Homo sapiens: one gene and its partner. The protein of the gene in region 1 interacts with the protein of each later gene in a pairwise test. Each region holds a gene or a part of one and is shown on either strand. Other genes may lie near its edges. The genes, in order: CCIN and TARDBP.

What was found.
Region 2: the proteins of CCIN (region 1) and TARDBP interact in binary tests that used the Homo sapiens proteins (3 or more experiments, as listed by UniProt).

The regions. Positions count from the first base shown.
Region 1 is NC_000009.12:36,164,311-36,171,969, forward strand, and holds CCIN (calicin), read left to right. Parts: upstream 1-5,077; 5' UTR 5,078-5,192; coding exon 5,193-6,959; 3' UTR 6,960-7,024; downstream 7,025-7,659. UniProt on the Homo sapiens protein: Required for both nuclear and acrosomal shaping during spermiogenesis.
Region 2 is NC_000001.11:11,022,654-11,026,285, reverse strand, and holds the end of TARDBP (TAR DNA-binding protein 43), read right to left. Parts: coding exon 3,632-3,632; 3' UTR 794-3,631; downstream 1-793. UniProt on the Homo sapiens protein: RNA-binding protein that is involved in various steps of RNA biogenesis and processing.

The DNA of each region.
Region 1 (7,659 bases):
AGAATATTCTTGAATGTTCCTGAGTTTTCTAGCTCCAGCCCAAATCTGTATATCTTTAAAATATGCCCCTCATTTTCCTCAGGGCTTCCAAACAAACTGATATACCAGCCGATAGTCCCCAAAGATTAGAATCATACCATCTCTTCCTAACGGGAGACACCATGAACAGAAAATGTGGCGCCTGGTAGGAAGCTGACGGTGGGTGAAAAGACCCTGCTGAGATCCTTTTCTGGCCCCACCTGGCAAGCTGCCAGCCAATGAACTTCTTGGTGGCTCCTCGGGTCACCCCCCCCACCCCCATACACACACACACACACACACACACAACCAGGTGGTGGAAGCCAGCATGCAGCCAGCCTCTATGGGCTGGAGTTTGTTTCCACAGTTGGCTGGATTGAGGAAAAAGCTGGACCGGGGAGCTTTCCTGGGCTAAAGAAATGCCAGACAGCAAAGCTGGCTGAGCAGGTGGGCACTAATCTCACTTTTAAGGATTTCTTGAAGATGGCAAGCCTCACAATCCAAAAAGAACAAGGACAAACCAAACCGCGGCTCTCCTTTGTAGCCAGAGGGCAGAGGAAGAAGACAGCTCTCTGGTGCAAGCCTCTTCCTCTCCCTGGGCTTCAATTTATCCACCTGTACGAGGTCTGTCACATGGAGTTAGGTCTATCAGTTCTCTCAGGTCCCCATGACACCTCCAGACCCAACTTAATGCTGGAAGTGTCTGATGAGAGAGCTCATTCCTGCCTTGGTGCTCTGGGAGCTGAAACAAAAACAAACAGGCATGGCCACCTCCTCCACTGAAATGCTCCCAAGGCTGAAGCTTGCAGGTGGGAGGGCAGGGGAGAGGACAAAGGAGGTGTGAAGCAGCAGGGCCTGACCCACCCACCCCCTGCTCCCGGGTGAAGATGTCCCAGGAGGCGAGATCTGCCAGCCTGCATGTCCATGGGAGCCAGAAGGTGTCTGGCATCAGCACCAAGAGGCCTCATCATTCACCCAAGTTGCTGCTGCTGCTTTGCAGAAGGTAAGGGCTGAAGAGGCATTAAGGGCTTAATTATTCTCCCAGGGAGACTGGTCTCCGGAGGAGGAGGCTGAAATTGAAGTCTACTTCCAATGGGGAAAACAGAAGTTCTTCACTTTGTGCACGTATCATATCCCAAGAGACCGAGTCTCTCTATCGCATTCGGGCGGGAAGGTGGACAAATTCAGTTTAAAAGGGTATTTTTGGCCAGGTGCGGTGGCTAACGCCTGTAATCCCATACATTAGGAGGCCAAGGTGGGTGGATCACGAGGTCAGGAGTTCAAGACCAGCCTGGCCAAGACGGTGAAACCCCGTCTCTACTAAAAATACAAAAGTTAGCCGGGCGTGGCTGCGCGCGCCTGTAATCCCAGCTACTTGGGAGGCTGAGGCAAGAAATTACTTGAACCCGGGAGGCGGAGGTTGCAGTGAGCCGAGATCGGGCCACTGCACTCCAGCCTGGGGGACAGAGTGAGACTCCATCTCAGAAAAAAAAAAAAAAAAAAGGGAAGGGGCGTATTTTCAAATAATTTTCAAGTTACCAAATCTAAAAATAAGGAAAAGACTAGTCTGGAATGAACGGACGAGGGAGGGAGACAATGAGAATGAGAATATGACTAAGCCAGGGAGGGAAAGAGCTGGAACGGCTCAGATTCCCGAGGCTGATACTGAAATTTCCCGGGAGGGGCACTGAGGACGGCCCGAGGGTCTAGAGTGGGGCTTGGGCCCAGATTGGAGGAGATCAGAGAGGTAAGTCCTTTCTGTACCTTCTCGCGAATGCCTGGGCGAGATGCAAGTCCAGGCCCTTCTCTGGGGTCTCTTCCCAAAGGCTGGTCCGGGTGGGGCTACTGGGCTCTTTTGCCTCCCCCTCCCTCCCGCCCGCGGCGCTCCAGCTGGCGCTTATCCCCTTCTTGCACGAACAGCAGTTCCACAGACGCCCCACAGGACTCCGGGAGCCCCACGCCAGCCAGGAATCTGTCCGAGTCTGCGGGCACCCTCCTCTCTCCCCGCAAAGGACTCGCAGGGGTCAGGAAACCCCCCCAGCTGTTACTGGGAGTCGGAGACAGTCTTCTGGCCTCTGGAGGGCGCGCCTCCGTTGGGGGCTCAGCGTCCCCATCTGTAAAGTGGGGACAGGTGTGTGTCTGGGGAAATCTAAGGAGTCCTGCAAGGCTGAGAGCCCCCGATCCTGCCGTTTGAATTCCAGGGTCGCGGCGGACGGCACGGCGCTGCCGCCTTTGCACGGTGGCGCGTGGAGGCAAAGCGAAAAAGGGGACGCCCCGCGCCTCTTTTCCATCCTGGAGAGGGGTTGGGGTGGTGCCCGGCGCAGAGGCGGTGCGCTCGGGGGCGGGGACGACCCTCCAGCGCCACCGCGTGGCTGGACTGGGTTCGGGCGGCGGGCCCAGAAGAGACGCGAGGTAGCCACAGCCTCCTCAGCTACCGCGAAACCAGAACCACGATGACCACAAGTTTTTATGAAGGGAGCAGCCACGAACGCCGGCGCTGGGCGAACTGGTGTAATATGAGTAAGAAAACGGCAGCTAGCATTGATTGAGCTTTATGACAAGCCCACTACTCTCCAGTCCTTTTCTCATTTAAACTCTAATAATAGGCCGGGCACGGTGGTTCACGCCTATAATCCCAACCCTTTGAGAGGCCGAGGCGGGCGGATCACCTGAGGTCAGGGGTTCGAGACCAGCTTGGCCAACATGGTGAAACCTCGTCTCTACTAAAAATACAAAACTTTGCCGGGCATGTTGACAGGCGCCTGTAATCCCAGCTACTGGGGGTGGGGGGTGAGGGGGGTTGGGGGGTTGGGTAATAAAAGACAGGGGAATTGCAACAGAGAAAGAGTAATTCACACAGAGCCAGCCGTGCGGGAGACTGGAGGGTTTTGTTTTTGTTTTTTGGGGTTTTTTTTTTTGAGACGGAGTCTCACTCTGTCGCCCAGGCTGGAGTGCAATGGTGCGATCTGGGCACGCTGCAACCTCCGCCTCCCGGGTTCGAGCGATTCTGCTGCCTCAGTCTCCCCAGTAGCTGGGATTACAGGCATTACAGGCATGCACCACCACTCCCAACTAATTTTTGTATTTTTAGTAGAGACAGGGTTTTGCCATGTTGGCCAGGCTGGTCTCGAAACCATGACCTCAGGTGATCCGCCCACCTTGGCATCCCAAAGTGCTAGGATTACAAGCATGAGGCACCGCGCCCGGCCTGGAGTTTTATTATTACTCAAATCAGTCTCCCGGAGCATTGGGGGAGCAGAGTTTTTAAAGATAACTTGGTGGGTAGGGGGAAGCCAGTGAGCCAGGAGTGCTGCTGATTGGTCAGAGATGAAATCATGGGAGTTGGAGCTGTCTTCTTGGGCTGAGTCAGTTCTTGGGTCTGGGGGCCACAAGATCAGATGAGCCAGTTTATTGATCTGAGTGGTGCCAGCTGATCCATCAAGTGCAGGTTCTGCAAAATATCTCAAGCACCGGCCGGGCACGGGGGCTCACGCCTGTAATCCCAGCACTTTGGAAGGCTGAGGCAGGTGGATCACCTGAGGTCGGGAGTTTGAGACCAGCCTGACCAACATAGAGAAACCCCATCTCTACTAAAAATACAGAATTAGCCGGGTGTGGTGGTGCATGCCTGTAATCCCAGCTACTCAGGAGGCTGAGGCAGGAGAAACGCTTGAACCCGGGAGTTGGAGGTTGTGGTGAGCCGAGAACGCACCATTGCACTCCGGCCTGGGCAAGAAGAGCGAAACTGTCTAAAAAAAAAAAAAAAGAGAAATCTCAAGCACTGGTCTTAGGAGCAGTTTAGGGAGGGTTAGAATCTTGTAGCCTCCAGCTACATGACTCCTAAACCATAATTTCTAATCTTGTGGCTAATGTTAGTCCTACAAAGGCAATCTAGTCCCCAGGCAAGAAGGAGGTCTGCTTTGGGAAAGGGCTGTCTTTGTTTAAACCGTAAACTATACATATAGGTTTCTCCCAAAGTTAGTTCAGCCTTTGCCAAGGAATGAGCAAGGACAGCTTGGAGGTTAGAAGCAAGATGGAGTCAGTTAAGTTGATCTCTTTCACTGTCTCAGTCATAATTTTGCAAAGGCTGTTTCAAGCTGAGATCGCACCACTGCACTCCAACCTGGGTGACAGAGCGAGACTCTGTCTCAAAAAAATAAAAATAAAAATAAAAATAAACTCATAATAATCTTTGAAGTGGGTACTACTATCAAATATTAGTTCCATCTCACAGAGGAGGAAACTGAGGTTTAGAAAGTCTGATCAACTCGCCCAAGTCCACCTTTGATGGAGAAAGCTGACCCACTGAAGCCCCCAACATTTTCCAACTGGACACTTGGAAATGTTGGGGGAACATTCTAGTTTGCCAAGGAGCTGAAATCATCCGGTCTTTAAAGACCCTCCCATGCCCCCGTTTGTGGTTAACTCCTTCATCCCTGCTCCAGGGAGTGGCCTCCACCTCTCCATTTTGAAGGAGAATGATGTCTGTGGCCACCAAGGTCAGAAGCCAAAGGACAGAGCTTTTCTCTGATGCCCAGGAGCCTTGGCAGGAAGAGTGCTTGGAGAGTTGAGAGTCAGAGACTGGGGAAAGCTGGGTAGTCAGGAGCTTCCAGAAGGGTAGGAAGAATGCGAGGTTCCCCAGGTTCTGGGCCCTGCTCGGCTTCCAACTGGCTATGTGATTTTGGGCAAGTGCCTTCTCTTCTCTGGGCCTCAGTTTCCCTCAAAATGGGAGGATTCTTCTAGGTCTAATAATCTCTTCCCTTTCCCCACCTCCCCTTATCTCTCCTACACAAACTGCTCCCCACTGCCCCACCCAGACTGGCTCTGATATTCCAGAAGCCTTTAACTACGGTTTGAAAGTCCCAGGTGGAAGTTGCCGCCCATCCCTGAGGTTCCTCCTGAGCTCTGGGCCCAGGGCTTTAGGTCCTGCTAGGGTATGTGGCCTTGGCAGGTTGGAGAGATCAGAGGGGAGGAAGGCCCAGTGCCTCTGAGACAGGCCTCAGGGAGGCCTGCATTGTGATGACCTGATCCACTCTATGACATCATCCTCTCTTCCACCCTCTCTTCTCCCTGGTCAACCGCTCTGCAAACAACCATCAATCTGATCCCACAGGCCTGAGAAAGTCTGCTCTCCAGTACCTGCTGCTGATCTGTTTCAGCCGACAAGAGGCACCATGAAATTGGAATTCACGGAGAAAAACTACAATAGCTTCGTGCTGCAGAACCTGAACAGACAGAGGAAACGCAAAGAGTACTGGGACATGGCCCTGAGTGTGGACAACCACGTCTTCTTTGCACATCGCAATGTGCTGGCTGCTGTCTCCCCACTGGTGAGGAGCCTCATCTCCAGCAATGACATGAAGACCGCTGATGAGCTTTTCATCACCATTGACACCAGTTACCTGAGCCCGGTCACAGTGGACCAGCTTCTGGACTACTTCTATAGCGGCAAGGTGGTGATCTCCGAGCAAAATGTGGAGGAGCTGCTTCGTGGGGCTCAGTATTTCAACACACCACGCCTTCGAGTTCACTGTAACGACTTCCTTATTAAGTCCATCTGCCGTGCCAACTGCTTGCGCTACCTCTTCTTGGCTGAGCTGTTTGAGCTCAAAGAGGTATCAGACGTAGCTTACTCTGGCATTCGGGACAACTTCCACTACTGGGCCAGTCCTGAGGGCTCCATGCACTTCATGCGCTGTCCACCTGTTATCTTTGGCCGCCTGCTCCGTGATGAAAACCTTCACGTGCTCAATGAAGACCAGGCGCTCAGCGCACTCATCAATTGGGTGTACTTCCGGAAGGAGGATCGGGAGAAGTATTTCAAGAAGTTCTTCAATTACATCAATCTCAATGCTGTCTCCAATAAGACGCTGGTGTTTGCCAGCAACAAGCTGGTGGGCATGGAGAACACCTCATCCCATACAACCCTGATTGAGAGTGTCCTGATGGACCGCAAGCAGGAGCGGCCATGCAGCCTGCTGGTCTACCAGCGGAAAGGGGCCCTGCTTGATTCCGTGGTCATCCTCGGTGGCCAGAAGGCCCACGGCCAGTTCAATGATGGAGTGTTTGCTTATATCATCCAGGAGAACCTGTGGATGAAGCTCTCAGACATGCCCTATCGGGCAGCAGCACTTAGTGCCACCTCTGCTGGTCGCTACATCTACATCTCTGGTGGCACCACTGAGCAGATTTCAGGGCTGAAGACAGCCTGGCGGTATGACATGGATGACAACTCCTGGACCAAGTTGCCTGACCTGCCCATCGGGCTTGTCTTCCACACCATGGTGACCTGTGGGGGGACAGTGTACTCAGTGGGCGGGAGCATTGCCCCAAGGCGGTATGTCTCCAACATCTATCGCTATGATGAGCGGAAGGAAGTCTGGTGCCTGGCAGGAAAGATGAGCATCCCCATGGATGGCACCGCCGTGATCACTAAAGGAGACAGGCATCTGTACATTGTCACTGGACGGTGCTTGGTGAAAGGTTATATCTCCCGGGTCGGGGTAGTGGACTGCTTTGACACCAGCACTGGGGACGTGGTCCAGTGTATCACCTTCCCCATTGAGTTCAACCATCGGCCCCTGCTCTCTTTCCAACAGGACAACATCCTCTGCGTGCACAGCCACCGGCAGAGTGTGGAAATCAATCTGCAGAAGGTGAAGGCAAGCAAGACGACCACCTCAGTGCCTGTCTTGCCCAACAGCTGCCCCTTGGATGTGTCCCATGCTATATGCTCCATTGGAGACAGCAAGGTGTTTGTATGTGGGGGTGTCACCACTGCCAGCGATGTCCAGACAAAGGACTACACCATCAATCCAAATGCCTTCTTGCTGGACCAAAAGACAGGCAAGTGGAAGACCCTGGCTCCTCCACCAGAGGCACTGGACTGTCCTGCCTGCTGTCTAGCCAAGCTACCTTGCAAGATTCTTCAAAGGATTTAAACATTTTAAGTGGGAGAATAAGTAAATGCATTATTATTCACGATTTAATGAGAGAAAGAGAGGAAGATGGCCTGTTGTTTCCTTCTTAGTGTTCCAGTCCATGCTTGGCCCTGAAGGTGGAGATCCTAGGGGAGGGCTGCTCCCAGTGGGTGGAAACTCAGGGCCACTATGTCATTGGAGGTATCCAACAGGGCCTGGAAAGGAACCCCTGGTGGGTGGAATTGAGGCCCCTCCCAGGCACTGGCCAAGGCGATGTCTGTCCCCTATTCTGTACCCCTGTGATCACCTCTCAGGCATCTGCTAGATTGGCAGGTAAACATCCACTCAGAGCTGTGAAGCATCAAGCTCCTCCAGCACCTGCTTCCCTCCGGTCTTTCACAAAAGCAGGGGAGGACCCGTCCCAGGTCTGAGAGAGGAATCTCATGGCCAGGAAGGAGAAGGTGACCTGGGTAAGACTCAGAAAAGAAGGCAGAAGGAACAGGGGAGGCAAGGTTACTTAGCTTCTGTATTTGCCCATGCAGCTACGGTAGTTTGTGTCTCATTTGTGGGAAAGCTGGAGGTTCCTTACAATTGTTTCTACTAAGCCAAGTACATTGAGAACTTTCTCCAGGAATATGAGTCTGAGGGACTGGGGATAAAAGAGAGGCCAGTAAAGGGAAAAGAAAGAAACATATCCTGGTCGGGCACAGTGGCCCATGCC
Region 2 (3,632 bases), on another chromosome or scaffold:
CAAGGACTATTTGGCAATACATTTTAAGCAAGACCAGGCATGTTCAGGGAGGGTGGCAGGCCACAGACTGGCAATACATTTCAAAAGCCCTTAAAAAGCATGCATAATCTTTGACCTAGCAATTCCAATGCTAAGAATTTATTTTAGCAGTAAGGATATTCCCAGCAATTGGAAATAACCTGAATAATGTTCAAATTCAGAAGACTGAATCAAAACATGGCATTTCCACAAGATGAAAAGTGGCATTAGAAATAAGTGGTGACATTATAGAGAAATCTGTATTTTTCCTCTTTACAATGAACATGAAATACTTGGGCACAGTGATGCCTAACAAAAGCACACATCACACAACAGTTAAGTACAGAACCCTAATACACACTTAGGGGCTACTTTGCTCATACTCAACAACAACAAAATCATTCTTACTGTTACACATTATCTCTTGGATTACGGAGTAGTTAACTTCCTACTTTTTCCTACTAAGGACACAACTTAAGTGCTGATTTAACTTTAAAAATCTCATTTGGTTTTAGCTGGCTATTCCTTCCTAAAAGGTTTTAATAGCTAACATTCAAGTTTTTCAGTCTAACTAAAAGTTACCATTCCATGTAAAAGCTTACTGTGAGTCTTGGCCTCATTTCTCTTGTGCATATGAAGTACAACTTCTTGAGACTCAATTTTTATTATTTTCTTTTTTCTTTAGAGACTCAATTTTTAAAGGTAACTTTCCAGCATCTGTATATCACATATAAAAAGAAATCGTGTTTTTCCAGTAAGACTCCAGACACTAAACTGTGGTGTCAAAAAAAAATTTTATTTATCTGGTTCAAAAAATTTTTTAGAATGAATGCATTTAGATTGACCAAATAGATTTTTAAAAACAAATCTTTGCCAAATAGTTTAAGTACTTTTAAACTTCAAAATCTTCTTAGGGTAAAATAAATACCCGTATCTATGCAGTACCATAAACATGTTAATAAAAGGCCACTCAACATTGAAAGCCTTCTATGACCAGTAACTGAAATTTACACAAGTGTAAAGAAGGGATTAAACCATGCCGTTGACAAGTTAACTTACCCCTGGGCTCCTTGAAGGCTTGTCAGTTTAGTCTTTGGAGGTCCCCGAGTACCATTTTAAGTGTTACCATGTTACTGCTGCTGAGTAATAGTGCAAGTGCTAAAATGCAAAATTCAGATGGTACAGGGTTTGGAAATCATGCAGATTCAGATGCAGAAAAAAAAAATTAAAACAACTCAAGATCCCTTTACAGAGGAAACTGAATAATGAAACAATGTGGCGATTACAAGTCTAAAGGATGACTTCATTGATAAATGTTTATGTAACTTGCAAAATGACAAACCTATTTATCATAATCTAATTAGGTAAGGGCATTAGGTAAACTACCAACACAACAAATATCACATTCTTCCAACTAGAAAATGAGCTCAACTCTCACAGAATTAGTTACAAAAAAGTACAACAGAGAATCAATGTTATTGCTTTTACATACTTAACAATGCATTGTGAGAGTGTGAGTTTTGTAAGCGATTTTATTCAACTGTATTCAATGTTACCACATTCCCCCACCTCCTGGAGGACAAAGCCCATTCCACTTAACACTTCCAGACAGACAACCCACCCTAATTCTTAAAGCTATCAGGCCTCTTAATGGATTTCAGGCACAAGATAATTTGTGGTTTCTTCTACTTTATCCCTACTGCAATTAATTCCACTTTTCAAATCCCAAACTAGGAAGGTGCTGATATTCCCTTTTCAATTGATATGCTTTGCTACAAAGCATTAGAAAATAATCAACATTTTGCCCACTCCCCCAAATAAGAATCTTTTTAGAAGGCATGACTTCCCAATGGAGATTTACACAGGCCATGTAAATAGAACATCACCCAAATGCACAGAGGCACTAAGAAAAAGCCGGAGGGTACTGCTTACCATTTTAGGTGCGGTCACCCAGACTTATTCAAAACTAGATTTCAAAAGAAAAAAAAAAATTTTCACTTTGGCCAATGCAAGAACAAATACCAATTAAGTCTGGGTATCAGGTGTCAATGCATGACAGGTGATGAATCCATTTGACTTGAGACAACTTTTCAAATAAGTTTATTTGAAGCAAAATAAACTACTGCCAAGAAACTTTATGAAAGTTCCATCTCAAAAGGGTCAAAAAAGGGGAATTAACTGCTATGAATTCTTTGCATTCAGGGCTGCAAAACAAAGACACATATTATTTAAATCAGTTTTATTTAAGAATTTCCAACAATGACAACTCTTATAAAAAGCATCCAAGCACAGGACACAGAACTGCAGCAAACAGCATTCTTATGGGTAGCTAACAGACATTAGAACTTCCACCCTTCTTTGAGACACCTGAGCTCACTGGTGAACTCTGCTTCAAGTCCTCCTGCAAAGCACACCACAAGCTCAGTCCATGTTCTCAGCCCATCAGCTTCAGTTCACATTGCCACACTTACATATCAGTAACAGAAGAGAACACACACCATACAGCATTCACAGCAGTTGACAAAGGGGTAGGGGGAGTACAAGTATCATTTCACTTAACACATTCATCTAATGTGGGTTATCTAAGAACAAAAACTCACTTAAAAGTCTTCCAACAGATGTGGATGTCCTTTGAATGCAAAAAACATTCGTACATTATTTGCTATCATTGCTCTCTGCACACTCTCTCACCAAAGCCACAGGATTGAGAGACACATCTCGCCAAGTTAAAAAATATCCATTATGCACCACCAAGTCTCTGCACGCGCTCTCTCCTTTTCTCGCTCATACTAGCCTTTCATGCCTCGGCACCACCATCAATCCCACACAAGGTTTCAAAAGTTCAGACAGCCTTCTGGTTCCATATCACAGCCTTGCGTTCATAGCGTTGATACGACTCCATGAAATAAAGAGTAGCGGATAAAAATGGGACACCCACCGTCAAAGACGCGGCCTGTGATGCGTGATGACGAATTCTTGAATGAGAAAGCATGTAGACAGTATTCCTATGGCAGAATATTTACAGCACTACTTTCAATGAAGTGCTTCTTCCATAAACATTTGAAATGAGATGAACTGCAGAGATTAAATGAAGGCTTCATATTGTACTTTTGTGTATGAGGGGAGACAAGTGTTAAAAAACAAAACAAAAGAACCAAACACTGTGACACCATGATCTCCTAAAAGGAGATTTTCTTAAGGAAAAAAATCCATATGGTGGGGTTCAAATTAAAACAAGGGGTAAAGAATGTAGTTCTAATCAATGGTTTCCGTTTTGAACATGCAAAGAATTCACTTGACAAGTCCAGGGATAAAATATTACAGGAGAAACCTTTTGATATCAATTGTAGTGTGTTGGTTTACCAATCAGGCAAACAGCAGTTCACTTTCAACCACTCAATATTTCAACCTTTCATGTAACAAAACTTATAAAATTCCTTTAGCTCTTCCTTTTTCTAAAGAAAAATGTCAAAAATACTGCTGAATATACTCCACACTGAACAAACCAATTTTGAAAATTCTTAGTACATATGTATTTTACAATATACTTACCATGAGTTTAGAAAAATTTGAATTCCCACCATTCTATACCAACCAACCACAACCCCACTGTC